Homo sapiens: one gene and its partners. The protein of the gene in region 3 interacts with the protein of the main gene of each other region in a biochemical or structural test. Each region holds a gene or a part of one and is shown on either strand. Other genes may lie near its edges.

Region 1 (7,670 bases), on a different chromosome or scaffold from region 3:
TAACTCTCTTTTTATTTCCAGTCCCAGGGTTTCTCTTTTTTTCACCATCCACAACAGTTGTCACTTGAATGAGGCATATATTTGAACTGTGTTTCCCAGTTACGTCCTTTTCCCAGTTGAAAGGTCCCAGCATCATATTCCCAAGTGAACCCACATGGGTTCATTGTACTTTCTCTTTTGTGCAGGGTTGAAAATGTCCATAATAAAAAAGATTTTATAAAAATAGAGCATACATTCCTATACTCTAGATTTGGTCACAAGAGGAATTTGTGGTTGGGAAGAAATTAGCATATTCATATGCCACACCACTCCCTGGCATGCCCTCCCTATTCTGTGCCTGGTAAAATTGTTCTCAGCCTCTGAGTTCTAGGCAGGACACCTATGGAAGTATCTCGATAACTCTCTCATCTGCATTCCCAAAGCACTTTATACATCTCCATTAAAGCACTTACTATTGCATTGTGGTTAGCTGTTTATAGAGCCGTCCCACCACCAATCTCCCCTACCCTCTAAGCCTACAAGCAACTCTCATATTTTGTTGCATCCCCAGTGCCCAGCACAGTGCCTGGAAAAGAAGATCAAGATAGCATTTAAAAGAGGATCAAGATAGCATTTCACAGTGCCTGGAAAAGAGGATCAAGACAGCATTTCTCAGAAACATTGAGGGCAGTGTCTCCACTAAACAGGTGTTTCAGGGGGCTTCCCTAGCCAACTTCCATAAACACTCTCAACCTTTCTCCTTTCCTAAAAAAAATAAATAAATAAACAATCTAAGTAAAAACACAACTTCAAAACAAGTCCCCCCATGGCCTTCATACAATGAGATTGCTGCCCTAAACTGTTCCTCATTGGAATTAATTCTGGCATGAACACTGCAGAACATGCAAAGTTCTTTTAATACCACAAAACAAAAAGCCTACATGGCACTCACAGTTTTCAAACTATTTCACCTTTTTTTTCTCCTTCCATTTGTCCACTTATCCCTGATAGTCCTATCCTCATTTTTCAGACACTCAAGGAAGTAAAAGTGACATGTCCAATATCAGAACTGGTAACAGCTCTGTGCCTAAAACCCTTAACTTATTGATCTATCCACTCATCTGACTCTTCTGATGCTAGGCTCAGTATCTGTGAAGGGTTTTTTTTTTTTTCCTAGATTTTTTTCCCATTATGAATGGTGGCATTAAATGGGGGCACCATGCTCTAAAAAATCCATTTCAAGCAAAATCATTTAGGCAGATACACATTATGAAAAGAGAGAGTCGAATATGTCCCACTTGTGTTAGTATTGCTCTATGATTTTGCCATAAGTACTTCTTATTGACTAACGGGTTTCCAGTGAATTACCGACTGTTCAAAAAATGCCATGCCATGCATTTCTACACATAGAAATATGTTATTATCTAAAAATTTTGCTCATAAGGAAGCACTACTATTTATAGGTTAAGTGCAAGATCCTGAATCCCATATAATTCCTTTTTCCTGAACTATTAAATGTAGATACTTATCACATTAACAACCTCTATACTTTAAATACTCTTAGTTCTTCTACATAATCCTGTGTGATTTAACTATTACTTTAATTCTCTTACTATTTATTGCATGCAACTCTTTTAATATTAGTACATATCATTTTAGACATAAATAGGGCACTACCTGCCAAAAAATCTTGCTACTGAGTGGTAATTGAAAGTCAAGATTATTTCTCAGATATATTAAGCTTTTCAAATGAGCTACATTTAGCTTTTCTCAAATTACTTAATATTTTTCAACAAAGGCCTATAATAGAGTATGCAAAGCACGTCACACTTAAGATTTTCAAGTTTGATCTGGTTACGAATCTGTTAATTGAAAATTTTTCAATATGGCAGAGCACAAAATATTTCACACAAATGCAAATAGAGATGTCATGCAGATAGCTGCAAGACGTGCATCATTGCCCTTCTGCATCAAACTCCGAAATTCAGAGGCAGTTCACTCTGCAAGATTTCTTGCTCAGTTCTTAAAAGTTCAGATGCATCACCTTTTAATCAGGGTAATAAGCTATAATTGCTAACATACTGTGTAACGTTTAAACCTGCAATCTGGACAAACAGAAAATTATGCTGTCACAGCCTGGAAACAACTGCAATCCACTGTTAACACACACATCCTCCTTAGAGAGAGCTGTCGTCGGGAGTTACATGCTTTATGGTTTTAATTATTTTTAGCGTAAAGATCTTTTCCCGAGAAGCAGGTATTAAGACGAAAGCAGCCTCCCAAATGACCTTCTCTAACACAGACCTTGAGCGAGCGACTGCGGGGGCAGAGAGCTGTGAATTTCAGCAAGGGATTCGACAGCTCCACCGGGTCCCTCACACTTTGCTTTCAAGAACAAAAAAAGAATGTTACTCTGCACCTGCCGGTGCCCCCACCCCTCTTTAAAACTTCATACCCCGCAAGGTCTGAATAGCCGGAAAGGGTATGCATCGATTCTTCTGTCCCGTGATGCCAAGAGAAAATAAACCCCCACCCAGGAGCGGAGCCTGGAGTCGCGGCAGGGCAGGGGGTTGGAGAGGTGGGTGCTCTCTCCCCTTACTGCGCTGCATTTTCTCCACCACGTGTAATAATCTCATGCCGCTGGCACCCCACGAGAGGCGGGGATCCTTGTCCTCCTGTCTCCCGGACGAGGACCTCAACCCCTTCCCCCGCTCGGGGACCCCGGCCACCCGCAGCCCGGCCGCGCTGCGCCCAGGTGCGGAGCTGCGGCGGTCTCAGGGCCCGGGCAGCACCGCAGAGCTCGGCCCCCGGCTGCGGCCCCCGGCGAGCTACCTTTTATCCAGGCAGGCGATCCACTCGGCAGAGGAGGAAGAATGGGCAGCGTGCGCAGCGACCATGTTGAGCGGCGGCGCGCGGTGTCCCTGGCTGCGGCGACCTCCCGCGCTCGCTCTGCCTGCGCCTCCGCCCCCGCCTCGTCCGCCGCGCGGACCCCGCTCCTCCCGGACGCCTGGCGACCAGCGCGGCTGCGACAGGCCCGCCCTCCCCGCGGGCTCCCGCGGCCTGGGGCGGTGGGGAGAGGGAGGGGACCCGGGGGGCGGGACGCGGGTGCGGGGAGGGCCGAGTCGCCCGCCCGCCCGCCGCTGCACTGCGGCGCCCGTGGGTGGGGATTCCGCCCCGGGGTGGGGACCCCGCGGTCCCGCTGCTGGGGGACACTGGGGGTGGCGACCCCGGTGGCCGGCCACCTGCGACAGGTGTCCGCTGCGTCCCTCGGAGACTGGGGCCCCACCCTCACCCCGGGGCCTCTGAGGCGGGGCGGGAGGGCAGGCGCCAAGGCAGAGTGGGGAGAGGGCTGCCAGTGTCTATATATTTTTCATACAGCAAATGCTACTAAAATGGCTGCTGCCTCTCTGTTTCCTTAGAAACCCATGAGTCTTCCTCAGCAGCTGTCGAAACTTGCCGGCGGTTGCTTGCTCACCTTTGCTGTCTCCCCTTCAGAAAAGGCTGGAGGGGAGGGCGAGGAAGGCTTGGCGTGGGGACGCCCGTCGAGTCTCTCAGTGAGGAATGAGAGGCCAGCTTCTCCTGCGGGGTGAGGAAGGGCTGGGCGCAATGGGGGGCAGTGCGGGCAGGGCTGAGGGGCAGGGAGGGAGGAGGCCGGTGGGCCCGATGTGGTCTGAGGGGGTGACAGGCTGAAGTCACTGGCCTTGAACCCTGGGCCTGCCTGGGCTTCCATCACCTGCATGGTGAAGAAAACACAGTTGAGAATGGGGAGTAGCCGGGCCACAGCAGAACCGAGACCCCGGACGCGCAGGTGAACTTGTATGGCTGGCCCCCTTGCTGTTCTTCCTCTGGCTGGAGTGTTGAATGGGTGGTGATAACGGCCTGTCTCTTGTAGATGTTCACACAAATGTCATGTCTACAAGTTATTCAGTTACACTCTGCCAAGAACCAAATTACACGCCAATGGTTGTTTAGGAATTTGCGGACAAGTTAAATGTTTTGGACTATTACCAAGCACTGTTTTGATATTTATGGCACTACATTTGGGGCCAGACAATGGGGGAAAGGGACATAGCATTGCTTTCTTCTACTGTTCCCTGCCTCCTCCCCCCACCAAACCTCCTATCCAACCCTGCTCAGGGGAGAGTCAGGGGGACTGGAGAGAAGGAAAGAGCAAGTGCTTTCTGGGATGCTTTGATCCTAATAAAACAATTATTACCATGATATAAAAGCCTCCAAATATGTGCCATTTCCCTCTGCTGGATAGCCAGGATCTAGTTTCAGACCTGCCACAGTGTTCCCACAGCAACTCCTCCCTCCCTGCTCAGGGCTTTTCCCCCAGTTAACCTTCATTCTGTTAATTTCTATCATGTTTATGCTAATATTTAAAATAATATACTATAGAAAGATTAACCAAAGGTATTTATGTTGTGGCTTTTTTACTATACAGGTATGAAGGAGGAACTGTATCTCCTATATATATTAAGTTTCATTTATAAAGACATCAGAGAGCACCTGAGAATGTTTCAAGGTCACCAAAAGCTTTCTGAAAATGCCTTTCTGCAAAGAAGGTTTCCAGGTAAGGAGCTAGAGGAGAAAGGAGCTGCACATCACCTGTCATCACACAGAGGCTCAGAGTTGCCATAGCTTTGGTTATGATACTAATAATAGTCGCCATTTATTGAACATCCACTGAGTGTTAGACCCTGTGCAGTACTCCTTACATGTGTGATCCCATTTAATCTTCAGAACACTCTATGAGGCAGAGCCAGAAAGACACTACTCCACAAACAGCAATAAATATCCTTGAAAATGTAGTGAAATATTGAAAATGATATGTATCAGTACTTTCAGGGAGAGTGTTAATTGGATTGGAAGGAAGACACTGATGAGCTGCTGGGAGTGAGAGTGAGACCCTCGAGGAGTCCACAGTGCATTTTAAGGAGTGTAGCTCTGATGAACTGCAAGGCCTTTGTTTTGCTGTGTGGGGGCCCTGCCTCTTCTCTAAAGAGAAGTTGAAGACTTATTTAAAGAACATCCTTTCGAAGGAGAACCAACAATCACTAGCTTGTCCAGAGCATGCTCATGTCTTCATCCAGCCCTGGAGGTAGGTACAAGTAACTCCAAGATACTCACTAAGACACTGAACTCAGGAAGGGTCCATAACCCAGCTACAGGAGATGGGGCCCCGGAGTGGAATTTGGGTCTGTCTGATTCCAAACCCTTCCACATCAGTGATGGTGTCCCTGTTTCTGCCAATAGAATGGGAGTATAGGGCATGTCTACAATGACTGTCCAGAGGGTAAGAACAAAATAGTTATAAATCAGTTTTTTAATGTAAAAATAGAGAAATGTGTGAGGAATTAAAAAACAGAGATCCTTAAAACATCAGGAATAGCTTTACTGTCCTATAGATTATCTTGTGATCTGAAAGGGATTTGATTGCTGGTCAAGAACTACAGGAGTAAAGGAAACTCTGTTGATAATTAGTTATTATAGTATTAAGAGGAAGAAAACAGGCTTTTGCTTGGATTGGATGGGAAAGGCAAAGAACCAAAGAATATTTATTCATTTCCCTCTCTTTAAAAGAACACAATATATGTCAGTCCCAAAAGAGCATATGTTGTATGATCCTATTTATGTGAAACTTCCAGAAAAAGCGAATCTATAGAGATGGAAAATAGATTAGGGATTGCCTAAGGCTGGGAGGTGGGAATAAGGGATGACTGCAGATGGGCCTGAGAAATCTTCTAGAAATGATCTAAAATTGAACTGTGGTGATGGATACACAACTCTATAAATTTAATAACAATCATCAAATGGTATAGTTAAAATGAGTGAATTTTACAGTATGCAAATTATCTCAATAAAAATGTTAAGTAAATAAAATATTAATAAACCTATATGGAGAGGAAAAATAATATGATTGATCTTTTGGGGGGAAACAGAGAAAAATATAGGAGAAAAAGTAAAAATTACCCATAATTCCATAACATAGAGGTAATACTGTTAATATTTTAGTGCATTTAATTCTAAACTTTTCTATTATGAAAAGATACAATCAAGGCCAAGCACAGTGGCTCACATCTGTAGTCCCAACAATTTCGGAGGACAAGGCAGGAGGATTGCTTGAGGCCAGGAGTTCAAGACCAGCCAGGGCAACATAGTGAGACCCCCCCCATCTCTACAAAAATTAAAAAAAAATTAAAAATTAGAAGTGATATGATCATACATGTACCCACAAACACATACATATAACTAGCTATGTGTATGTATATGTGTGCATATATGTATGTGTATAGATACATGTATTCAAACAGACTTGAAAGCATTAATAGTTTATAGGCTACTTTTTCTATTGGAATGGAAAAATGCTTTACTTTCCTTAAAAAATCCTTAAACATTTTTTCCTGGCCACCAAATATTCTAGTGTACAGTTATAATTTACTTACACTATCTTTTGAGACTTGTTTTTTCACTTGGAAAAGGTATTATCTGTTTAATCTCCTTCCTATAGTTTAGTGAATTCTTTCTCTACTAGAGAACTAAGATCTCTACTGAAGATCTCCATGAGACAAGGATGAGACAAGACCAATATCTGTTAATGCTATGTAGATCCTCGAATGAGTTGCTAAAATGTCTGATTTCCATTTTGTTCATCTGAGCAGAGGTTCAAAGTTAGGAATTTGAAGGCAGGCAGCCAAGTTCAAATTGCAGCCATATCTTCTACTAAATGTTTGGCCTTAAATTAACTACTTAGCCTAAGACTCCGTTTCATCATCTGTAGAGTGGAGAAATTAATAGTATTATACATGAATTTGGTATTTGTAAGATATTTAGCATAAGTGCCAAGCACATAGTGAGTGTTCAATAACTCTTAGCTATTATTCTCCATATAGTGCAAATAATACTAGGTGCTCTCTGCATTTCACAGGGACCTGGTGGTGATAAGCTGTCGAGATCACTTATGCTAAAGGGCTTCGACATCTATAAATTGCAAGTTTTGGCTATAAAGGATATGAGGGATGGGTCTCCTGAGAAACCCATAGAAATTCTCCAGGAAATTCTATCATAGATTGGGCATTCACTCATATCCGTATATGGGGAAAAATCTGATTCACCATGTTTTAGGTACCTCATTGGAAGGTAGGTTATAAAAACACATCTATCACTCCTGCTGGTGATATAACCAATTCAATGAAGACGCAGTATTCCTTCGGTGAAATCATAAAAGCAATTTTAATGTTTTATCTCACTGTCCTTTTAAACTTGCTCAGTGAAGGCAATTCTACCCCTGCCACTGGATATAGCTTGTTTGGTCACTTATAGGTAATAGAAAGTACCAGATTCTTTCTATTAGAATGCCCAAACCAATATATCACTACATATTTCAATCTTCATTTCAAAGAAAAGAACTCTGCCCTCCTCCCCAACCTACAGCTGGTCACAGGCAGGTCTCAGCCTTTAGGAGAGAAGACGTGGTCAGCTTCTCCTTTCCTTCCTCATCCCAGACCACCATGAAAGCTGCTGGTTTTGACCCTTCCAGAATCAGAGTAGGGAAGGGAAGAGAGAAAAGAAGGGGCAAGAAAGTTCTTACTTTACTGGGACAGTTGTAAGATGGCATTGTCTTTTCCAAACCTGGCTAATGTCAAACCTGCTCTTTATCTTGTGGGTGCCTTCATTTTTTCTTAGGT
Region 2 (7,029 bases), about 90 Mb from region 3:
GGGCTCCCAGCAGCTGTGCCGGGCTGCCCCCTCCATGGCGGTCGGGGGAGGCAAGGCCTGGACTCTCGGCCAGCTGAGACTCTTGGCCTGGAGGGCCCAGCATGGGATGGCAGGGGTTAAGCTGGGTGCTGGCTGAGGAGCCAGGTAGGTCCCCATCCCCCATGAGGGGGTTACTTGTCTGTCATGTGTAGGCAGTGGACAGGGCATCGGCAGACCTGTGGCAGAACTGGAGGGTCCAGGAGGCATACTGGGCACAGCCGGCTCCCTGCCCCTCAGCCCACCTGGGGCTCCAGGGACCTCAAGAAGCAGGGTAGGGTGATAGGAGGTCCCTGGGAAGAAAATCCTACCTTCTAAGGCAGGTGCATGTAATCACAGTCTTCAGTGACCTCTGAAATAATCTTGTCCATTTGTAGCAGACATGCCCAGAGAGGGAGAGTGACTTGCCCAGAGTCACACAGCAGAACCCAAATTGGAAACCAGGACCCGGCTCCCAACCCAGTGCTCACTCCCCCACATATCACATCCTCCTTGTGCTGCCTCCAGGGGCTAAGCTCTCCACACGGAGCTGTCTCAAACTCTCTCTCCCACCTTGTTCCCTCTGAGTCCAGAGGGATGCTCAGGGGTGATGGAGGCCCAGGGAGGGGGCAAGCCAGACCCCCAGTCCTGCTTCCACTGAGCAATCCCTGCCCCAGCCCAGACCCCCAGGCTGGGGGTGGGGACGATGCCAGCAGCTTCCCTGATCCCAGGTCTGGACGGCTCTGCCCTGCAGAGACAGCCCAGATGGGTGGGCCATGGGGAGGGTGGGGAGGCAGGGGGCAGCCCACGGGCTGGTGTTGGTCTTCAGGGCAGAGGTCTCGTCTGCCTGGGCTTGACACGGCACCTTCCCCTTGTGCTTCTGTGGCCTCATCTGCAGGGCAAAGGGGGATGGAGACACCATGAAACATGGCATGGTGGGTGGCTGGCACCAGTGTGCCCCAACTCTGCCAAGTCCCTGCCTCAGAGAACCCCACCCTGGGAGGGGCCCACCCTTGGAATTCCAGGCTCCAGGTCTTTCCATCCCATTGGGAACCCCTGAAACTTCTCCCCACCTGGCAACTGCCAAGTCCCTTTCACACTCCCATCAAATCCTCCAACAATGCAAGGGCAGAGGTCACGGGGAAGGGCCGTGGCCTGCCCAAGTCACCCAGCAACTGAGGACCAGGGGGCTCAAACCCAGATACATAGCTCCCACCCCAGAGAGGTGACAGAAGAACAGGGAGGAATCAGCTCAGCCCTCTACACACCCCCACCCTCTCCCACCAAACACAAGCTGAGGGGCTGGGTCTAACCTGCTCAGTTTCACCTTCAGAGGGGGTGGCCCGGCTAACAGCCCTGCAGACAGACAGTGGTGGTGAGGCAGGTGGCAAGACGGGAGAAGCAACGGGGCGGGAGACACAGGTGCACAAAGTCACTGGCTGTGTCCAGGCCGGGCAAGCCCCACCCCTCCTGGCCTAGCGGGGCCTAGGGGGACCTCTTGGTCGAGCCTCAGCTCCCAGCCTCCCCGCCAGCTCATCCCCTCCCGGGTGGGGCTCCCTCAGCACCAGCCCCAGGAGGCTGCACGTACCAGCTGGGGCATGTGCTGCTCAGATGCTTCCAGCTGGATCTTGATCTCGGGACACGCAGGGTCCCCCAACTTGCCGGCGTCTGGGTGGGGTGATCGAGAGGGGCCTGGGGAGGGGGGCAGGAGGGAGCCACCTCACTGGCCGCGGGGAGGCACCAGGGAGACGGGGGCATAGGTGGGCGGTCGGCACCAGTGCGCTCCAACCCCACCCTTAACTTTCTTCCTTGCCATCCCCCATTATCCTCCGAGACCCTTCCGGAAGAAACCAGCCCTCCAATCCACCCAGCCACCCTAGGCTGGACAATGACCTGCCCGCTGTCCTCCAAGTCAGGGGCAGTCACATCACATCCACTGCATGGGGCATGGGAACTGGTGCCCAGCCCTGTCCCCCTCCTACCCCAAGGTAGCCCTGCTTTGTGGGGAAGCTGCCTTGTCCTGGTACCTGGGGAGCTGCCCCCACTAGTGGTGCTGACACTGTCCTCCAGCCACGTGCTATAGATGAAGGAGTCCCGCTTGTGGGGTGTTCCTGAGGATGACACGCTCTCCTGGGGAGGGGGTGGAAAGAGGGAGGGAGGTTAGCCTATGCCCTTGGCACTGGCTAGGGCTCCCTCCCAGCCCCTCTCCCTCACTGCATTCCACAACCCCCCACCCGTACCCTCTGCGAGGAGGACGGGCCTAGCCATGTCTGCCCCAGGGAGACCACAGGAGGGCAGAGTCAGGGCAGGCACAGACCCAGGCACACGCCACCCACTGCCACTCACTCACTCAACAAACATTCACTGATGTTCTCCAGGGCTTGCCACTGACATAAATCAGGCATGGGCCCTGCCCTCAGGAGCCTGATATCTGGGAGGCAAGGCAGGCTGTGAAGAGACCATTGCAATTCTAGACTCTGTGCCCCAGCAGGCAGGGCCTGGGTCTGCACTGTTCCCAGCTGTATCTGTTGTATCTGGGGCAGCGCTTGGCAAGGAACAGGGGCCCACTGATGGTTTGCAGAATGAAGAATGATAAAGGGTGTTCCGGGCAAAGCCCGAGGACTGTGAGAACGTAAAGGGGCTTCCTAACCTACCCCGAGATTAGGAAATCAGGGAAGGCTTTCAGGAGGAGGTGTGTGAGACTCAGTCAAAAAGGATGAGTCAGAGCCAGCCTGGCAAAGAAAGGAGGAGGCGGCAGGAAGAGTGTTCCAGACAGAAGAGATGGCACATGCGCAAAGGGCCAGGGGTGCAGTGAGCCTGGGAGGCTTGGGGGACTGCAACGGAGTACAGAATGTCTGAAGTGGTAAGAGAGGAGACTAGAGAGGAAGGGAGTGACCAGATCTCCAAGAGCTCCAGAGACTGAGCTTCCTGTGGACAGTGCTGGGGAGCCGTGGAAGGCTTCTGAGCAGGGGAGGGTTCGTCTGCACTGCTCCTTTGGGCCGGGTCCCCTGATCACATCTCAGCCACGCCCAGGCTCGTGGTTCTACTCAGGGCATCTCCAGGGACCAAAGAGCCCCCTTCCAAGCTCCTGTGGGGCCCCTGACCCCCCTGAGCCTCTCACCAGGCCTGTGTCCTCTCCGTCCACACCCTCCGTCTCCTCCACCACGCTGGCGAAGCTGCTGGCACTGGACGAGGAGCGGGAGAAGTCCTTGAGCGCCTCTGCTCTCTGCGCTGCGGTCTCCGCTCTGCCACAGACAGTGCCCCATTAGCCGGTGTCCACCCCGAGCCCCTCCTGGGCCAGGCCCTCACTCCCTTGCCCTCCCCAACCCGGGAGGCCCAGCTGGTAGCAGCCAAGCACCTTTGAGGACCCCTTACAGATCCTTGGGCCTCTGAGCCCCCCAGACTCCCCCTGCAGCCTCCTCCTACCCGCATTGTCCTTCCTAATCCATAAATCTGACCACGTCCCTCCCCTGCTCAAAACCCTCTCCTGGCCTCCCATTTCCCCAGGTAAAGCACAATATCCTTGGCGTGGTGTTCAAAAACAGCAGCGGTTAGCGACACTAACATCATCGGGTGCACGTTCACTCTGCACCGGGCACTGCTCTACGTGCCTTTACCTGAATTATCTTATCGCTATGATTATTATACCCATCTTCCAGATGAGATGACACCAGGCACAGAGGGGACAGGCACACAGCCCAGGGTCACTCAGCACAGGTGGGAGGGCAGGGGTTGAGGTCCAGGCAACTCCACAGTCTACTCTCTTAATCCCACAAGGTTTTCATGCTCAGGGCCTCTATGCCTCCTGCCTGGAGTCTCAGTCCTCTCAAATCCCGAAAAGCAAATGTGCCTTTAAAAAATCAGCCTAGGGCTCTCGCTCCAGGAGTCCTTCCCTGATTCCTCCTCCCAAGGTGAGAATGACCCTCCCCACTCTGGCTCCTGCATACTGCGTCTCCCTGGTCCCTGCCACCCTTTCCTGCCTCTCTGTTCACCTACCCGGCTCTTTAGCCTGGGCTGAGTCCTCTTGATTCCCACAGAGCCCAACACAGAGGCAGCTCAGCCAACGGACACCAAATGCAGGGACAGTTTCCTCACTGGCCTCTCTGCTTCCATCCCACCCCACTCCAGCCTCTTTGTACAGCAACCGAAGTCAGCTTCTTAAAGCATCGCCCTCGTAATTAAAATCCTCCCAAGGTTCCCTGTCACACTTAGGATAAAAGTCAAAGCTCTTAGGCTGGGCGCAGTGGCTCACGCCTGTAATCCCAGCACTTTGGGAGGCTGAGGCGGGCGGATCACGAGATCGGGAGATCAAGACCATCCTGGCTAACACGGTGAAACCCCGTATCTACTAAAAATACAAAAATTAGATGGGCATGGTGGCGGGCACCTGTAGTCCCAGCTACTTGGGGGGCTGAGGCAGGAGAATGGCGTGAACCCGGGAGGTGGAGCTTGCAGTGAGCCGAGATTGTGCCACTGCACTCCAGCCTGGGAGACAGAGCAAGACTCTGTCTCAAAAAAAAAAAAAAAGTCAAAGCTCTTGTACAGCCTGCTAAGCTATAAGCCAGTGTCTGCCCACCTCTCCAACCTCCTTCCCGCCACCACCCAGCACAATGTCACAATGTCTGTCCAGGCCCAGCCCCTCAGATACTCTTTTTTTTTTTTTTAAGCAATGGAGTCTTGCTATGATGTCCAGGCTAGAGTGCAGTGGCTATTCACAGGCATGATCATAGCTCACTGCAGCCTCCAACTCCTGGGCTAAAATCATCCTCCTGCTTCAGCCTCCCAGGTAGGTGGACTCCAGGCATACGTCACCACTCCCAGCCACCCTTCTTTCTGTCCCTGGAGTGTGCCCCAGGCCTCTGCACTGGCCGAGCTCCTCTGCCATGCCAGTCCTAGCAGGGCTGGTTCAGTTCCCAATTCAAATGTCACCCCATGGAGGTGTCTCCCCGAGGACCCATCTAAAACACCTCTGCCCCCAGTCCCTCTTCATCCCCCCAACCCTGCTTCGGGTTCCTCCTATCACCATGATCCGGCAACAGCCTATGAGGCCGCGTTCTGATGGACCTGCGGCCGTGAGGCGGGGACCTATGCGCAGGGCACCTCTGTGCTCCAGAGCCGGGCGCGGGGCTGGGCGTGCACAAAGTGCTCGCTGGGTATATGTCAAAGGAGGGCCCCAGAGAATGCCCAGGTCCCCCTGACACCCTGCTGTGGCACAGTCAAGGCTCCTGTGCTGTCCCGGGCCCAGGCAGGGGAGGGGAAGGACGGTTCACCACTCCCAAGCCCCCAAGCCCCACGTGCCCTGAGCCCCAACCTGTTCTTGGTCGTGGGCATCTCTGGGGAGCTCTGAGTGGATGAGTTCTCCGACTTGGGCTCCTGTGAGACGTGCCCGCTGTCTGGGGTCTTCTGACCAGCCGGAGGGCTCTCCCTGCGGGGCACACGGGGGCAGCGGGGGGATTCAGCACCAGGCCTGGCATCAGGCGTAGCGTGAGGCCCAGGCGGTGAGGGGAGTCACGGTGCCTCCTGCCTCATACCCACGCCCCTATACTCAGGGCCAGCCCTGGAGCAGTCTTGTGGGCTCCCTGGCTAGCCTGGCCAGTGATGGGGTTGGCACTGATGGGGCTATATGGGACAGGATGGGACTCCTCCCAGGTCCTCTCCACAGGAGCAGGTATAGCTGTCCCATTATGGATAAGGAACCTGCCCAGGGACGCACAGCTAGGACGTGGCAGTGCCAAGACCTGAACCCAGGACTCACAGCATGCGGAGCTCTGGCAGCAGCAAGGACAATGCCCACTCCCGTCCTGGAGCCCTCTCAGGGGACCTGGCCCTGGCCTCACACGCAGTGCCCTGAGTCCCCACAGCAGCCCCATGCCATGGGTTGTGTTCTTGTCCCTTTTCCAGGTTGGGACAGTAAGGCTCAGAGGAGGTCAGTGACTCGCCCAAGGTCACACATGGTTAATATCGGGGAGGCAGCCGGGAGCTAGCCTCTGATGTCCGGGGGCAGCCCTGCTGCTGGCCTGGGCTCACTGCCCTCATGCTGCCCACACTCATGGACCCCCCAGGCCCATCTGTGGCCACCCTGAAAACCAGCACTAGGCCCTCCCACATGCGCTGGGGCCGTGGGAAGAGCACGGATGCTGGCCCTAGACAGATCAGGGCTCAGATCCTAGCTCTGCCCATCACTGGCTGTGTGATCTGGGCAAGCCCCTTGACTCCTCTGACCTACCGCTTCTTGATCTGCATGTGGCACGTTAGGTGACGTGCTGGCCCTGGTGCCCGACACGCAGCAGGGACTTGACCACACAGCTGTCACTAGTGGGGATGGAGAGGCAGAGGGGCGGGCACTCCCTTCTGCCTGCCTTGCTTTGCCACCGAATGGGGCTCAGGGATGGGGATGCAGGGGAATGGGGCACTGTCCCCCACTCACCCACCTCTTCTCCTGCACCTCCTGTATGTTCTCGATGCCAATGGCGCTGCTGCGGCGGGAGCCGAACGGGCCCGACTTCTTCCTCGTGGGGCTCTTCCCAGGGACAATCAGTGACTGTGGGGAGAGGCCCCAACTCAGTGCCACCTTACCTGGGAGCCCCAGTGCCCCCCCCACATCCCCTCTGGGGATCCTGCTGCCCCAGGCCCTGAAGCAGAGTTGATGAGCAAGAAAGAACGAGAGAAGATATCCATTCCCAGAGACAGCCTCCCAGTTTACGAAAGGGAAACAGTCCCCAGGAGGGCAAGGGGCTCTCCCGAGCTCACACGGCAGGACTGCACGTCAATACTGGCCCAGGATTAGGACAGCATCCTGAGGGGGCTAGGGTGGGAGGAGGCCGAGTCCTCAGAATGGCTACCGCTCCCCGCCCCCCAGGGCTCTGTGGGATCTGCAGCCTAAGGGCAGTGGTCAGAGGGCAGTGTAGCAACCCAAGTCCCACCCCGTGCCAGCTAGGGCCCCTCCCCGGAACCTCCAAATTGGCTGGGGGAGGTTCTGGCCCAGCAGCTGGAAGACTCCCCCAGCTTCCCACA
Region 3 (7,665 bases):
TCCTGTAGTTAAATGTTGAAGAGAGGTAAGCTAACATCCAAAATTTAAATGTGAGCTATTGAAAAATTCAACTTAACAATCTGAAAGTTATCTTTTTATGACTGACATTATTTTTTAAATGTTAAACAATAATGTCCAATGCAAGTATACAAGCGACATTACCATGGAATGTTTGTCAACAACTGTGGCTGTCAAAATCAGTATAACCTAGTCTTAAGAGTATAAGGTAGGGTGAGAGGATAGAAACAGTGGCAGGGAAGGGTAGTAAGGGAAGACCTGAGACTGGTGCAGAGACCTGAAGAAGTGAGGGATATATACTGCCTTGGGGAAAAAGGTTACAGGCAGAGAGGACATTAAGTGCAGACACCTCAGTGTATTTGACCTTTTTGGGATGTAGGAGGCCAGTGTGGCTGGAGTACAGTAAGCAAGAGGAAAAGTAAAGGGGCTTGAGATTAGGGAAATAGCTGGGCAGCTGTAAGGCTTGTAGGCCATGGTAAGAACTTTGGATTCTACTGTGAATGAGATGGGAAAACACTGGAGGGTTTTGAATAGAAGAGAGACTTGTTCTGAAGTTTGTGAGCATCATTGTAGCTGCTGTGTGGAAATCAACTTGGGGTGGAGGGGCAAGAGTGGAAGCTGGAAGATCAATTAGGAGATTAATAATCTTCACTTCTAACCTTTTTCAGTGATTGCAAAATTGTGTATCTTTCTGCTGTTGGGCAAGTAGTTTCCTTTTCTTCCCATCTATTAAAATAATTAAATGAACATGTGCATATACAACATTTTCTTTCTTTTGGAATATTTCCTTGGGATTCATTTTCAGAAGGACTACAGGAACAACGTATATGAATATACCTGTCTTCTGGGGTATATTAAGTGTAGATACTGTCCTTCTTGAAGCCATACAAAAAGTGAACAAAGGCTTTTGAGCTGTTTTAATATGGAACTGTGTAACACTGAGGGATTCCATCCAGTTCACTTCTAAGACATAAGTTCATGGTTGGCCTCAGAGGGTCCCTAAAACTAATGCAAAATTTTGTGAATAAATGCCTATTAACTTTATTCTGGGGAGAGAGTTTATATATTTCATCATATTCTCAAAGGTGTCAGTGGCCTAGAAAAGGTTAAGAATTACTATCTTACAAACTGGAAATGGACTGCAGTATCCTAATATAGGGTACCTCTCAAAAGGACAGAAGATTTAATAACTAGACTCATCTTTGTAATCATTCAATTCATTCAACAAATACTTAACACGTATGATCCTCAATACCTAACAGCTAATCGTATCTGAAGTAGGCCATAATTTAAAACACCAAGAAAACTAGACAGGATTCACTGAAATATCACGCTACAAAAGAATATCGAACTATATGATTTCAAAACAACAATGTTATAGGAAAGCATAATAAAGACAGAAAGTCTGGGGCCTAATTTAATGCTTATTATGTCAAAGTATCACAGAAATAAATTACATCACAAGGAAAGAAAAACTACACATAGGCATGTCCACCCCCACACATTCTGACAGGAAACCCAAAGAAAGTTTCCAAATCCTGTTTCCAGCAGCATCTCTTCTGAGACGGCCCTTCATGCTTTTGAAGGTAGGAGCCCCAAGTTAAATCTAAGAGCTGATACTTTATTCTTACTGTAATCAAAACAAAAACATCATCCGCCACCTAAGAAGAGTGGCTGGCTACCTGTAGGGCTGTGGCTCATTGACCTTCTGCTCTATTATTCTATTTCATTTCTTATACCTCCTCCCTTCAAAGAAGTAACAAAATGATTTTCCCTCCCAAAACAGAATGCATTACTCCTCAATGGCAGTTCTTTTTCCAAGAGGTCAAAGGTTCCCTAAACTCTGGTTCTCAGCCCTAAGAGGAGATCCCATTTTGTAGGCACAAATGTCTTCCTCTCATCTTCTCCCCGTAGCAGTAAATTACACAACTCGGCTGAAGACACCGTCCTTAACTTCCTGATTAAGGGGGCAAGAGATACTCTTACCAAGCCGCTAGTTTGAAGGATAACAAGAATCACACCGTGACCTCTTCCCTAACAAAATTCAGGGAAGAAGCAGAGACCCATGAAAAGTAACACTGAAAAGGCGAACACATGGTAAGCTACGGAAGACATGAGGGTAAAGAAGGCGGGAAAGGGGCTGGAAGGTGGAGTGGGATGTAGATGTCAGCCCTATTAACTGGGGGAATAAAGGAAGGAAAGGGAGACCCTGAACCCTGACAGAAGTGAGCCCGGAGACAGCAATGCTCCAGTCTACCCGCACTCCTACAGCAGAGGACAGAGAATTCACCCAACCCTCCAACCCCGTTCCCCGTGTGTCCCTCCCCCCCGCCCCCGCGGGCCCAAAAGGGAGAGCTGGGTTTGAAGGAAGCTCTGACCCTAGACAGGGGACATGCAAGAGGAGGAAGGCAGCGATGTCCAACCTTCTACTTCTCTCAGGCAGTGAGGTACGAGGGCACCGTGTCTGGGGAGACGGCGAGGGAAATGGGCTTGTGCTATGACACCTCGGGGAGCTGAAGGGTGGGGGACACAATGTCCTCTTTCTCTCCCACAGCCGGCCGGGGCCCCTCCCGACGGTCTCCCGCAGGCCTACAGTCGACCGGGTCGGTCCGCGGGCGTGGTTGGCTCTGGCCCTGGCGGCGGCCGGGCCTCCCAGATCTCCGGCCCCTCCCGCCGGCCAGGCCCCCGGGCCGCCGCCCCGACACCGATGGAACGCGGAGGAGGAAGGGGGAGCCAGGCGACTGACCGGCGACATGAGCCGCCTCACCCTCGGCTCGGCCGACCCGCGCCCCCCGCTCCCTCTGGGGCCGTCTGGAGCTCCCCGCCCCTTACTCACCCCCCCGGTCCGGCGCCTCCTCCACCTCCTCCACCTCCTCCACCTCCTCCTCCTCCTCCTCCCTCCTCTCGGCCGTGGCTCCTGCTCCGGCTCTGCGCGGCGACAGCAGCGGGAGCGGCGGCGGCAGGGGCCTCGGGAGCGGCGGCGGCGCCTCCTCCAGAACGCGCACGCACGCACCACGCAGGCCCCGCCCCCTGGTTCTGCCCCGCCCCTCCAAGTTGGCGATGGCTGGGCTTCGGCCCCGCCTTCCCCACGGCGTTCCGGAGTCCGCTTAAAGGAGCCGCGCACACTGGAGCCGGGAAAGCCTGGAGCTACCGGGAAGGGGCGGGGAGTTTTAGCTTTGCGTAGGGCGGGATGGGAGGTGGGTAAGACCGGAAAAAAGATGAGGAAGGGTCCAAAGATTCAAGAAGAGAATTTGGAGGGAACTCAATCATTCGACAAGCCCTAATTGAGCACCTGTTAGGTTCCAGGCGCTGTTCTAACTAAGCGCAGAGGTTTAAAGTCATAGACAGGCAAAGACCCTCTTGCAGCTTGCATGCTGGTGGAGTGAGAGAGGGGAGACAGACAACAAACAAGTGACAAAAATTGCAGGTAGTGATAAGTGGTGTGGAGAAAAATAAAGCAGAGGATAGGGTGACTTTACACCTGGTGAGATACTGCCTCTCAAAGAAGACCTTTGAGCGCATACACACGGGATGAAGGAATAAGTCTTGCAAACACGCGGGCCTGGAGGAGGAATAGCCTTTCCAAGCTGAGAGAAAATCAGCCATAAACCCAGAGGTGGGGATACGCCTGCCATGTTGCAGAAACAGTGAAAGGCCGGCATGGCTGAGCAGCGTCAGCCAGCCCGAGAGCAGTACCAGCTAGGCTTGGCCAGATCCAGTGAAGCCTGTGGGCCATTATAACAGGAACGGGAAACCATGAGAGAAGGGTGAGCCGAGGAATGACCGCATCTGATTCATGTTGTTAAAAGTTAGTCTTGCTGATGTGTGTAAAATACACAATGGAGAAGCACAGATGTCCTTGGGATACCAGTAAGGTAGCTTGGACTAACTAGCCTGGCAGCCACGGACAGGATGAGAAGAAGGCTATTTTATTTTATTTTATTTTATTTAGATACATTTTGATTGGAATGGATTTGGATTTGGGGCATAGTGTGTGAAAGAACAAAAAGAAATCAAGAGTTGATTCTTAGGTTCGGGCCTGATGACTGAGTTAATGGCGGTGCCACTTAATGAAATGGAGGAGCAGATTTGGGGATGGGGAAATCAAGAGTCTTTTCTTACACATGTTATGTTTAAGGTGTCTGTTATACATCCAAATGGAGATATTGAATAAACAATCGATATATGAGTCTAGAGAGATACATTTGGGATTCATTAGCAAATAGATACTTTTTAAGTCTTAAGTCTAGTTAGGATCACATGGGGAGGGGAGATAGCTGAAGGAAAGGACCAAGAGGCACTCCAACACTTGAAGGTTAAGTAGAAAAGGAGGCGCTACCAGTCAGGGCAGGAGAAACACCAAGAGAAGGTGAAGCGTTGGAAAACAAGATAATTGTTTCAGGAAGGAGAGAGTGAAGAGTCTTATCAGATACTGCTGAAATTAGTAAGATAAGGACTGAGAATTTGAACACTGGATGTGGCCTGATGAAGTTGCTGATGACCTTGATGAAAACAGTTTCAGTGGAGTCATAGGGGAGAAAGTCTGATTAGGGTATGTTAATAGGATGGGAGGTGAGGAAGAGAAAGTGTTCTAAACAGCTCTTGAGAGGCTTTGCTTTGAAGGAGAAAAGGGCAGTAGCCAGAGAGGTACTTGAGATCAAGGGAGGATATTTTAAGATGAGAAATGCTTTTTCTCATTTTAGTATGCTGGAATGATTTTTTTTTTTTTGAGGCGGAGTCTTGCTCTGTTGCTAGGCTGGAGTGCAGTGGTGTGATCTCCGCTCACTGCAACCTCCAACTCCCTGGTTCGAGCGATTCTCCTGTCTCAGCCTCCAAAGCAGCTGGGATTACAGTCATGTGCCACCACACCTGGCTAATTTTGTGTTTTTATTAGAGACGGGGTTTCTCCACGTTGGCCAGGCTGGTCTCGAATTCCCAACCTCAGGTGATCCACCCGCCTCGGCCTCCCAAAGTGTTGGGATTACAGGTGTGAGCCACTGCGCCCAGCTGGAATGATTCTTTAGAGAGGTAAAATTGGGCCAGGCGTGGTGGCTCACACCTGTAATCCCAGCACTTTGGGAGGCCAAGGCGGGTGGATCACGAGGTCAGGAGATCGAGACCATCCTGGCTAACACGGTGAAACCCCATCTCTACTAAAAATACAAAAAAAATTAGCCAGGCGTGGTGGCAGGCGCCTGTAGTCCCAGCTACTCAGGAGGCTGAGGCAGGAGAATGGCATGAACCTGGAAGGCGGAACTTGCAGTGAGCCGAGATCGCGCCACTGCACTCCAGCCTGGGCAACAGAGCGAGACTCTGTAAGAGAGGTAAAATTGATGACACAGAAGGCAAGAGGAGACAACTGGAGAAAGAGTGTCCTCAAATAGGTGAGAAGCAATTGGATCTAGCACAGAAGTGAAAGGGTTGGCCTAGGATAGGAGTAAGGGAATGCATTCACACACTGTTTCTGGAGAGAAGGTAGAGTGTCTGGGTGCAGAAGCAGATAGATTAGACAGTACATTTGGTTGTGGCACGCTCAGGCCCCTGTAGAGCAGAGGCGGCAGGTAGGAGCTGAAATGTAGCCCTTGTTTTGCCCACAAAGCCACGTGCCCTGGTGGGGTCACATCAGCCTGGAGGAAGGGGTACTTTTCTGATTGCTCCACCAGGAGAGGTGGTGCATGTTAGCATCCTGCATATAACACACACACATGCGCAAACACACACACATGCGCATACACACACATGCATACCCACACACACACGTATGGACCTTTTCCCAGTTTCCACTGAGTGCCATATGTACTGGCTGCCTCACTGGGATTGATGAGGTAAGATCTGTTCTCTATGCAATGAAAAGCTGTTGGCTATTAAAGGAGATAGAAGAAGGTGAGAAATAATCTCCTTGAAGAGTGGAAAAGTGACTAGAGAAGCTTAGCATGGACAGTGCTGAGGGCCCTCTTGAGTTGATGATCATACATTAAAGTGAGACCACTCAGCAAGGCCGTGTGATTCTCCTCCAGCCACACTCCATTGCTTGGGGGTTGGAGGAGAATTGTATTTGACCAGGTCTGAGTTTTGCTGGGGAAAGCCTATGAGAGGGGTAGGAGTATTATGTAAGGGAGTGATTATAGTGATAGACCTTGGAATTTAAGCTGGGAGGGAAGACAGGGCAAGTAAAAAGTGGTAGAGTCAATGGTTTGCTGTGGTCCCTGTGAGAAGTAGTTTGAGAGGAAGTAATCAAACAAGTGAGGCCAAGGGGACTTTCCAAAAGTTGAGCATGGGGAAGGGTGAGTAAGGCGGTTAGGGGACAGGAAGCACAAAGCATCTGTGAGAAAAAGGTTCAAGCTGGCTCCAAGGAGCTAAGGAAACAGCAAAGCCCTTGGGCTTCTGTCCTCATCACGGTATATGTGAACCATTGGTTTGGAGAGGTTGAGGAACTGGATTGCCCACTCATAATCTTCAGGGAGCTGCACAAACAGGAGAAACTGAGTGCAGGAGGAGATAAACCAATTAAATCCTCCCAGGGCTCCTTTACAAGCTTTGGGAGAACCCAATGGGCACTTTGCTTTCCCTGCCCTTTCCTTTCACCAGGGATATCTGATGATTTGGGTAGACACTTTATCTGGCCTAGTATTTGACAGAAACTAAACACCTTTCTTCCTAAATCCAGCTCCTCCTCTTCCTGACTTCCTCTTTTCTGTTCATGGCACTACCTTTCTCAGTCACTCAGCTGCCAAACCGAAGCCTCCTTTAATCCATCTTCCTCATTCTATGCCTAATTAGTCCCTAAAGCATAGTGAGCTGCACTGTTCAATAAACATTGCACTGTGATGGAAATGTTCTTTATCTGCATAGTCCAAAACAGGAGTTACATATGGCTATTGAGCACTTTAAATGCAGCTAATGCAACTGAGGAAGTAAATTTTTTTTTTTTTTTTTTTTTTGAGACAGAGTCTCACTCTGTCACCAGGCTGGAGTGCAGTGGCACGGTCTTGGCTCACTGCAACCTCCACCTCCCAGGTTCAAGCGATTCTCCTGCTTCAGCCTCCCGAGTAGCTGGGACTACAGGCACAGGCCACCACGGCCAGCTAATTTTTTTATTTTTAGTAGAGGCGGGGTTTCACCATGTTGGCCAGGATGGTCTCAATCTCCTGACCTCATGATCTGCCTGCCTCAGCCTCCCAAAGTGCTGGGATTACAGGCGTGAGCCACCACGCCTGGCCTGAATTTTAAATCCTATTTAATTTTAATTAAAGTTGCATTTAAAGAGCCTTAATTAGGAGCTGCTATATTGGACTGCACAGGTATAAATACTATACTTTCTACACAATGGCCCTTCCAGCTGCCCCCACCTCTCTAGCTCTATTGCCACGACCCTAGGTCAGGTATTGGTTAACCTAGGTCGAGACTTTTGCTGTGATCTCCTGTTTGGTCTCCTGCTTGGTTGCCTTCCCTTCAGTCCGTCTTGTGTTCTTGCCAAAACCATCTTCCTGAAGCATTGTCCAGATCATGACTCCACCCTATTTTAAAAACTATCAGTAGTTCCCCATCAAATTTAGTACAAACTGCTCAATCTGGCACTTGCCCAATTGTGTATCTCCATCCCACTTTTCTAGCCTTACCTTTCACTATACCCTTACATGTATATCA
Region 4 (7,029 bases), on a different chromosome or scaffold from region 3:
ATTAGTACAGCCATTATGGAAAACAGTATGGAGGTTCCTCAAAAAACAAAAAATAGAACAACTATATGATCTAGCAATCCCACTATTGGGTATACATCCAAAGGAAATGACGTCAGTATATTGAAGAGATATCTTCCCTCCCATATGCATTGGAGCATTATTTACAATGGTCAAGACATGGAATCAACCTACGTGTCCATGGATGGATGAAAAGTTAAAGAAAATGTGACACATAGATACAATGGAATACTATTCAGCCTTTAAAAAGAAGGGAGTTCTGTCATTTGTGTCAGCATGGATGAAGCTGGAGGATACTATGCTAAGTGAAATAAGCCAGGCACAGAAAGGCAAACACCTCATGATCTCACATATGTGGAATCAGAAAAAGTTGGTCTCATAGAGGTGGAGAGCAGAATGGTGATTACCAGGGCTTGAGTTGGATGGTGGGATGGGGAGATGTTAGTCAAAGGATACAAAATTTCAGTTAGACAGGGAGAATAAATTCAAGAGATGTATTGTGTGACATGGCGACTACAGTTATTAAAACAATGTGTTGTACAGTCCTGCCTTCTATCCACAGGGAATATATTCCATGGAACAAACTCTGCATATACTCAAGTCCCTGATATAAATTGGGATAGTATTGCATAAAACCCACGCACATATGCTTTAAATCATCTCTAGATTACTTGTAATACCTAATGCAATAGACATGCTATGTAAATAAGTGCTATACTGCATTGCTTTTTATCTGCTTTTATTGATGTATTATCATTTTTATTTCTTCCGCATATTTTTGATCTGTGGTTTGTTGCAACCATGGATACAGAACCCATAGATAAGGAAGGCTACAGAACCCACAGATAAAAAGGGCAAAGAGGGCTTATCCCAGGGCTCTGTATCCATACAGCTGAAAATTGCTGAGCAGATTTTTAAGTGTTCTTACCACGAATACATGATTAAGTATGTGAATTAGCTTGATTTAGCCATTCCACAATGCGTACATATTTCAAAACATCATGGTGTACATCATAAATACATACAATGTTTATCTGTCAATTAAAAATAAACTGATTTTTAAAAATAAGAGTGCACCTGCTGGACACTCCTCCCCCTTGAAGCTGTGCCTCTGTTGCTGTGGGGCCACTGTCTGCTGGGGAACTTCCTCCTGCCGGGCAGTGGTGGCAGAGTAAGCTAGGACCTGTGGGGACAAAGGAGTGATGGGTGTGAGTGACTTCCAGACCTCACCCCTCCCAGGCTCCATCTCACATTCCCTTCACCCCAAGTGACAAAACCCATCAGAGCTTGGACATTTTTTCCAGCTCCAAACTTTCATTCTTTCATACCTGTGTTTGTCCCTTGGCCTGTTAGGGCCAGCTATTTTCTATAAAAAAAAAAAAAAATACAGGCAAGCGCGATGGCTCAAGCTTGTAATCCCAGCAATGTGGAAGTCTGAGGCAGGTGGATCACAAGGTCAAGAGATCGAGACCATCCTGGCCAACACGGTGAAACCCTGTCTCTACTAAAAATACAAAAATTAGCTGGGTGTGGTGGCACACACCTGTAATCCCAGCTACTCAGGAGGCTGAGGCAGGAGAATAGCTTGAACCTGAGAGGCAGAGGTTGCAGTGAGCCAAGATCGCGCCATTGCACTCCAATGTGGTGACAGTGCGAGACTCCATCTCAAATAAAAAAAAAAAAGAAAAAATGAAAAGAAAAAGAAAAACACTTATGTATCCTTTTCTCATATTATAACATAAATTTACCCCAGATAATGGGAGCAAGAAGAGCTATTTTGTTTTTTTGATACAGAGTCTTGCTATGTTGCCCAGGCTGGAATGCAGTGGCTATTCACAGGTGTGATCATATCTTACTATAGGCTTGAACTCCTGGCCTGAAGTGATCCTCCTGCTTCAGTCTCCCAAGAAATGTGGATAAGAGGCACATGCCACCATGGTTGGAAAGAAAAGATTTTATAAGAATTTTAAAAAACCACACACATATGAGCCCTTCATGCAGAAATAGCATTTAATATATTTAGTTTCACCAAGTGTTTAATTGACCAATAGGTGAATTCTGTCTCTCACTCACACACACACAAATACACACAGACACACACTTAAACATACTCAGCTTTACAAATGAAGGTTATAATATATATAACCTTACAGAAAGTCAGGATATAGCATCAAACATTAAGTAATTAATTACTGCTTTACAAAGGACCTTGTCAAGCTGCTCCCACTAAATATCAAAGAGTGACAAAAAAGATGAAACAGCAATTCAGGGATTCTGGCCATGATCTCTATGTTATAAATGACAACTAGAAGACAACTGGAGAAATCGGAATAGAGTGCGGATAGATAGTGGTAATGTGTTGATGTTAATTTCCTTGTTTGTAGAAAGTACACACTAAAGAATTCAATAATAGCTTTCATCATGCCAACAGCCATTTTTTCAAATGTTTTTATTGTATAGTTTTTGTAACTTTTCTTTAAGTTGGGAGTGTTTTAAAGTAGGAAATTAATTTAAGCAAAACCAAAATGGTTACAATGAAAGCTGCTTATGTTGGGCTCAGTTCAACTGCCTGGATCTAAACAAGACAAAATGTAGCTTTCTTCCACATCAAAGCCTGACTAGCAGTTGGTGACAGTGAAGCTAACCCACTTTTCCCAAATCATTCTTTCCCGGGTTGGAGTCCCTCTAGGTTCAGGCGATGTCTGCGTCTCCTTTCTCTGCTCTCACACTCTTACTCCCTCTCATTTAATGAGGGGTTTATTAGTGTTTTTTAAAATCCTTTCAGAAGACCAACTTTTCATTTTGTCTTTTTTTTTTTTTTTTTTTTTTTTTTGGAGACAGGGTCTCCCTCTGTCCTCCATGTTGGAGCGCAGAGTGCAGTGGTGTAATCTCGGTTCACTACAACCTTTGCCTCCTCTGCCTCCCAGGCTCAAGTGGTCCTGCCACCTCAGTCCCCAAAGACAGGTGTGTGCCACAACGCCCATCTAATTTTCACATATTTTGTAGAGCTGGGGTTTCGCCATGTTGCCCAGAGTGGTTTAACTCCTGAGCTCAAGTGATCTGCCTGCCTGGGCCTCCCAAAGTACTGGGATTACAGGCGTAAGCCACCGCACACAGTTGGTTTTCTCAGTTCTTTCTGTGGTTTGTATTCTTTGATTTATGCTCCTTCCTGTTACTTTGTTTGGTTTAAATTTACACTTATATTTTATGATTGATTAATGTAGCTCCTCAGGCCATAATTTTCTTTTTCTTTTTCTTTTTTTTTTTTGAGATGGAGTCTCGCTGTCTCCCAGGCCGGAGTGCAGTGGCACAATCTCGGCTCACTGCAAGCTCCACCTCCCAGGTTCATGCTATTCTCCTGCCTCAGCCTCCCAAGTAACTGGGACTACAGGTGCCCGCCACCACGCCTGGCTAATTTTTTGTATTTTTAGTAGAGACAGGGTTTCACCGTGTTAGCCAGGATGGTCTCGATTTTCTGACCTCGTGATCCACCCTCCTCGGCCTCCCAAAGTGCTGGAATTACAGATGTGAGCCACCGTGCCCGGCCCATAATTTTCACGTTTTTTCTTTTTTTGACAGCTTTAGTGAGACACAATTCACATAATTAATAATTATGATTATTCATATAATTCACCCATTTAAAGTCCACACTTCAGCAGTTTTTAATATACTCATAGCTATGCAATCATCACTATAATCAATTTTAGAATATTTTTATCACTCCAGAAAGGAACTACATACCCTTCAGCAGTAACTCCCCATCTCCCTAACCCCCAGTTTTTTAATACAAACATTGAAAGCTGTATATTTCACCCTGAGCACTGTTAGCTATTTCGCACCACTTTTGATGTGTTATATTGTCATTATTACTTACTTTGAAATATCTTACCTTCCCTTTTGATTTCCTGTCTGAACCACAGATTTTTAGAAGTGTGTTGTTCAATATCAAAATTTTAGAATTCTCTGTGGATATTGTTACTGATTTCCAGTTTAGTTTCATTAAGTTTAGAGATCATATTGTGTGTTTTATAGCCCAGAACCTGGTCTATCTTGGTGAAAGTATCATGAGCATAGAAAGGAATGAGTGTTCAGTGAATGTTCCACTCCTGCTCTTTAAATGTCAGTTAAATCAAGGTGGTTGATAGTGTGCAGATCGCTTGCCACTTTACTGGCATTTTCATCTAATCATGCTAGCAAGTGCAGAGAAACAGCTGAGTTAATCTCTTTTTAATTCTATTTTTGTGTCATGTGTTTTGAAGATGTATTACTAGGCATATACAATTTGTTGTTATTATACTCCTTGAAGAATTAACCCTTTTAACTACAAAGGTCCCTTTTCATCTCCCATAATATTCAATGTCCTAAAATTGTCACAGTAGGCAGCTAGTTAGGTATGAGCAGGACAGGAGAGGGGTCCCCGCTTCTGACACCAGCAGTGTTGGGCGACCATCAGGTAGTTGATAACTGTGTCTCTAAAGTAATAACTGGTTACAGCCGATGCCAGAAAAAAGCAGTTTCCTAATACATAGAAAACACTTGAAACTGATCAGCAGCTTCCCAATAAGATTTCAGGAGTGGGGAGAAGTAAGGCAAGATCCTGGAAGTAGGCCAACCTATAAAACCCCAACTCAGGCGGTCCGGCTGCGTACTGTTTCTCAAGTCACCTGCTTGGCCATCTTCCAAGTGTACTTTCCTTCTTTTCTTTCTGTTCCTTCCTTTCCTTCCTGTTCCTTCCTTTCCTTCCTGTTCTAAAGCTTTTTAATAAACTTTCACTCCTGCTCTGAAACTTGCCTCCATCTCTGCTTCTGCCTTATGCCCCTCAAACCAGTTCTTTCTTCTCAGGAGGCGAAGAGCTGAAGGTGCTGTGGACGCATACGGATTCGCCGCCTTCAACGTAGGGTAACTCGGATCTCATCCACCGCTAACAAAATCAACTTCATCTGATACTGAGATAGCCATGGCAGTTTTCTTGGCCTTACACTCTGCATGGTGTATCTTTTTCCATCTATTTACTTTCAACAGACAACATCTGTGTCTTCCTTTTAAGGCCCATCTCATATAGACAAGATATAGTTGAGTCTTGCTTTCTCAGCCCTTCCAAACATTTCTACCATTGAACTGTAGTGCTCAGTGGATTTACAGGGAGTGCAATAATTGATATAGTTGAAATAGACCTGTAAGTTTACCATTTAAGCTATGATTGTCTAGTCTAATTTTTTTACTCCTTTTCCCCCTGCACATTTTAATGTTAATTACCTTTTAGAATTCCATTTTAATTGGATAAACTGACTTTTTATGCATACCTATTTCCATGATCTATGTGCAAGTGCTATAGGGAATACAGTATACACTCAAGTGTTTACATTCTATTGAAGGTTTTTTAAAAATGGATTCATTGAGGTATAATGGGCATGAAACAAAGTGTACATTTTTGAAGCATGTAGTTTGGTAGATTGAGACGTGTGTATACATTGTGGAACTACCACCACGATAAGAAAATGACATGTCCACCACACCCCAGAATTTCTTCATTCTTCAATGTAATCCTCTCTTCCGCTTTGCTCCTATGTCCCCAGCAATAATTCTGCTTTTTGTCAGAATAGATTGGTCGAATTTTAATGAGAAATGGAATCAGATGGTAAGCATTCTGTGTGGATTCCTTCACACGACATAATTTTCTGTGTTTTTCTGTTTTTCTGTTTGTTTGGTTTTTTGTTGTTGTTGTTGTGACCGGGTTTTGCTATGTTGCCCTGGCTGGTCTTGAACTCCTGGGCTCAAGTGATCTGCCTGTCTTGGCAGGACTACAGGTGTGAGCCATCGCACCCTGCCCACCCTGGTCAATTGACTATTATGAATTAAAGGCTATTGAAAAACAACAGGTGCAAGAAGATCCTTTGACCTCTTTTGTGTTTCCTAAAAGCAGGAGATGAAAGTCCCCAGGGAAACATAGGACAATCTCCTTTTTTTTTTTTTCTGAAAGCTCTGCTTCCCAGGTTCTCACCATTCTCCTGCCTCAGCCTCTCCAGTAGCTGGGACTACAGGCACCCGCCACCACACTCCGCTAATTGTTTTGTATTTTCAGTAGAGACGGGGTTTCACTGTGTTAGCCAGGATGGTCTCGATCTCCTGACCTCGTGATCCACCTGCCTTGACCTCCCGAAGTGCTGGGATTACAGGCGTGAGCCACCGCACCCAGCTGACAATTTCCTTATTTTTAAGGATGAGAAGTCGAGGCCAAGAGGGTACTGTGCAGACCATGTTAGAATGGATCCACTCTCATCTTTTTAGCTCCTCACATAGTTACTTGCTTCTTCATGAGTTACTTGGTCTAATTCAGTAAATAAGTAACTGACTCTCACAGGTTCTTCCATGCCAGGTAAAACTTGAATTAAATAAATGTGTGTGCTTGTCTCCTGTGGACCTCTCTTAGGTGAATCAAATTCTCAGGCCCAGCTAAAAAAAAAAAAAAAAAAATCGGGTGGGGGGGCATCTAAAGGAGAGCTTCGCTCCCCTCCCTGACCCTCAATGGTGACTGTAATCAAACCACATCTTCCAGGCCAACAGTACCACATCCTATGGCCCTGCAACAGCATGGCCTCTCTCCAGCACAGCCTCTCTGGAGGAGGGGGAGGCAAGGGTAGTGAGATCTCAGGCCTCCTTCATGCTACCTCCTATTAGTTATATAATCCCTGGGTCACCTCTCCCACCACACTGCGGGCTCCAGGGAACAGGATTCACATGGGGTTCATTTGTCCTCCCAAACTCCGGCGGACTCCAGGCACAGGTGTTCTCAGAGTAAAGGGCTCACTGTTTACTTCCTGGATGAATCACTTTCCCCTCAAGCCTATGAAGTGCGCGCAGTTGTGGCCTCAGCTCAAGGCCGAAGGACAGGCTCCAAGAGCCCTGTGAACTCTGCTGAGGAACCATAAGAGCTCCCAGAGGCCAAGGGCAGGACAGAGATCAGAGAAGCAGCTGCTCAGAGAACTCTAGCCCTGAATCTCATTTTACCAC

Evidence for each region.
Region 1: of the proteins of RAP1A (region 3) and RAPGEF4, one has a biochemical effect on the other in vitro, tested with the Homo sapiens proteins (one study listed by BioGRID).
Region 2: of the proteins of RAP1A (region 3) and RAP1GAP, one has a biochemical effect on the other in vitro, tested with the Homo sapiens proteins (one study listed by BioGRID).
Region 4: the proteins of RAP1A (region 3) and TNFRSF10C form a complex in vitro, tested with the Homo sapiens proteins (one study listed by BioGRID).

What each region holds. Positions count from the first base shown.
Region 1 is NC_000002.12:172,731,190-172,738,859, reverse strand, and holds the start of RAPGEF4 (rap guanine nucleotide exchange factor 4), read right to left. Parts: upstream 3,016-7,670; 5' UTR 2,877-3,015; coding exon 2,812-2,876; exon of another isoform or gene 2,470-2,811; coding exon of another isoform or gene 2,435-2,469; intron 1-2,434.
Region 2 is NC_000001.11:21,596,358-21,603,386, forward strand, and holds part of RAP1GAP (rap1 GTPase-activating protein 1), read right to left. Parts: intron 6,557-7,029; coding exon 6,447-6,556; intron 5,483-6,446; coding exon of another isoform or gene 5,441-5,482; coding exon 5,327-5,440; intron 3,261-5,326; coding exon 3,137-3,260; intron 2,146-3,136; coding exon 2,043-2,145; intron 1,739-2,042; exon of another isoform or gene 1,708-1,738; coding exon 1,604-1,707; intron 1,372-1,603; coding exon 1,363-1,371; coding exon of another isoform or gene 1,329-1,362; intron 908-1,328; coding exon of another isoform or gene 617-907; 3' UTR 1-616. UniProt on the Homo sapiens protein: GTPase activator for the nuclear Ras-related regulatory protein RAP-1A (KREV-1), converting it to the putatively inactive GDP-bound state.
Region 3 is NC_000001.11:111,615,124-111,622,788, reverse strand, and holds the start of RAP1A (ras-related protein Rap-1A precursor), read right to left. Parts: upstream 3,001-7,665; 5' UTR 2,855-3,000; exon of another isoform or gene 2,391-2,854; intron 1-2,390. UniProt on the Homo sapiens protein: Counteracts the mitogenic function of Ras, at least partly because it can interact with Ras GAPs and RAF in a competitive manner. Together with ITGB1BP1, regulates KRIT1 localization to microtubules and membranes.
Region 4 is NC_000008.11:23,105,892-23,112,920, reverse strand, and holds part of TNFRSF10C (tumor necrosis factor receptor superfamily member 10C precursor), read right to left. Parts: intron 1,202-7,029; coding exon 1,096-1,201; intron 1-1,095. UniProt on the Homo sapiens protein: Receptor for the cytotoxic ligand TRAIL. Lacks a cytoplasmic death domain and hence is not capable of inducing apoptosis. May protect cells against TRAIL mediated apoptosis by competing with TRAIL-R1 and R2 for binding to the ligand.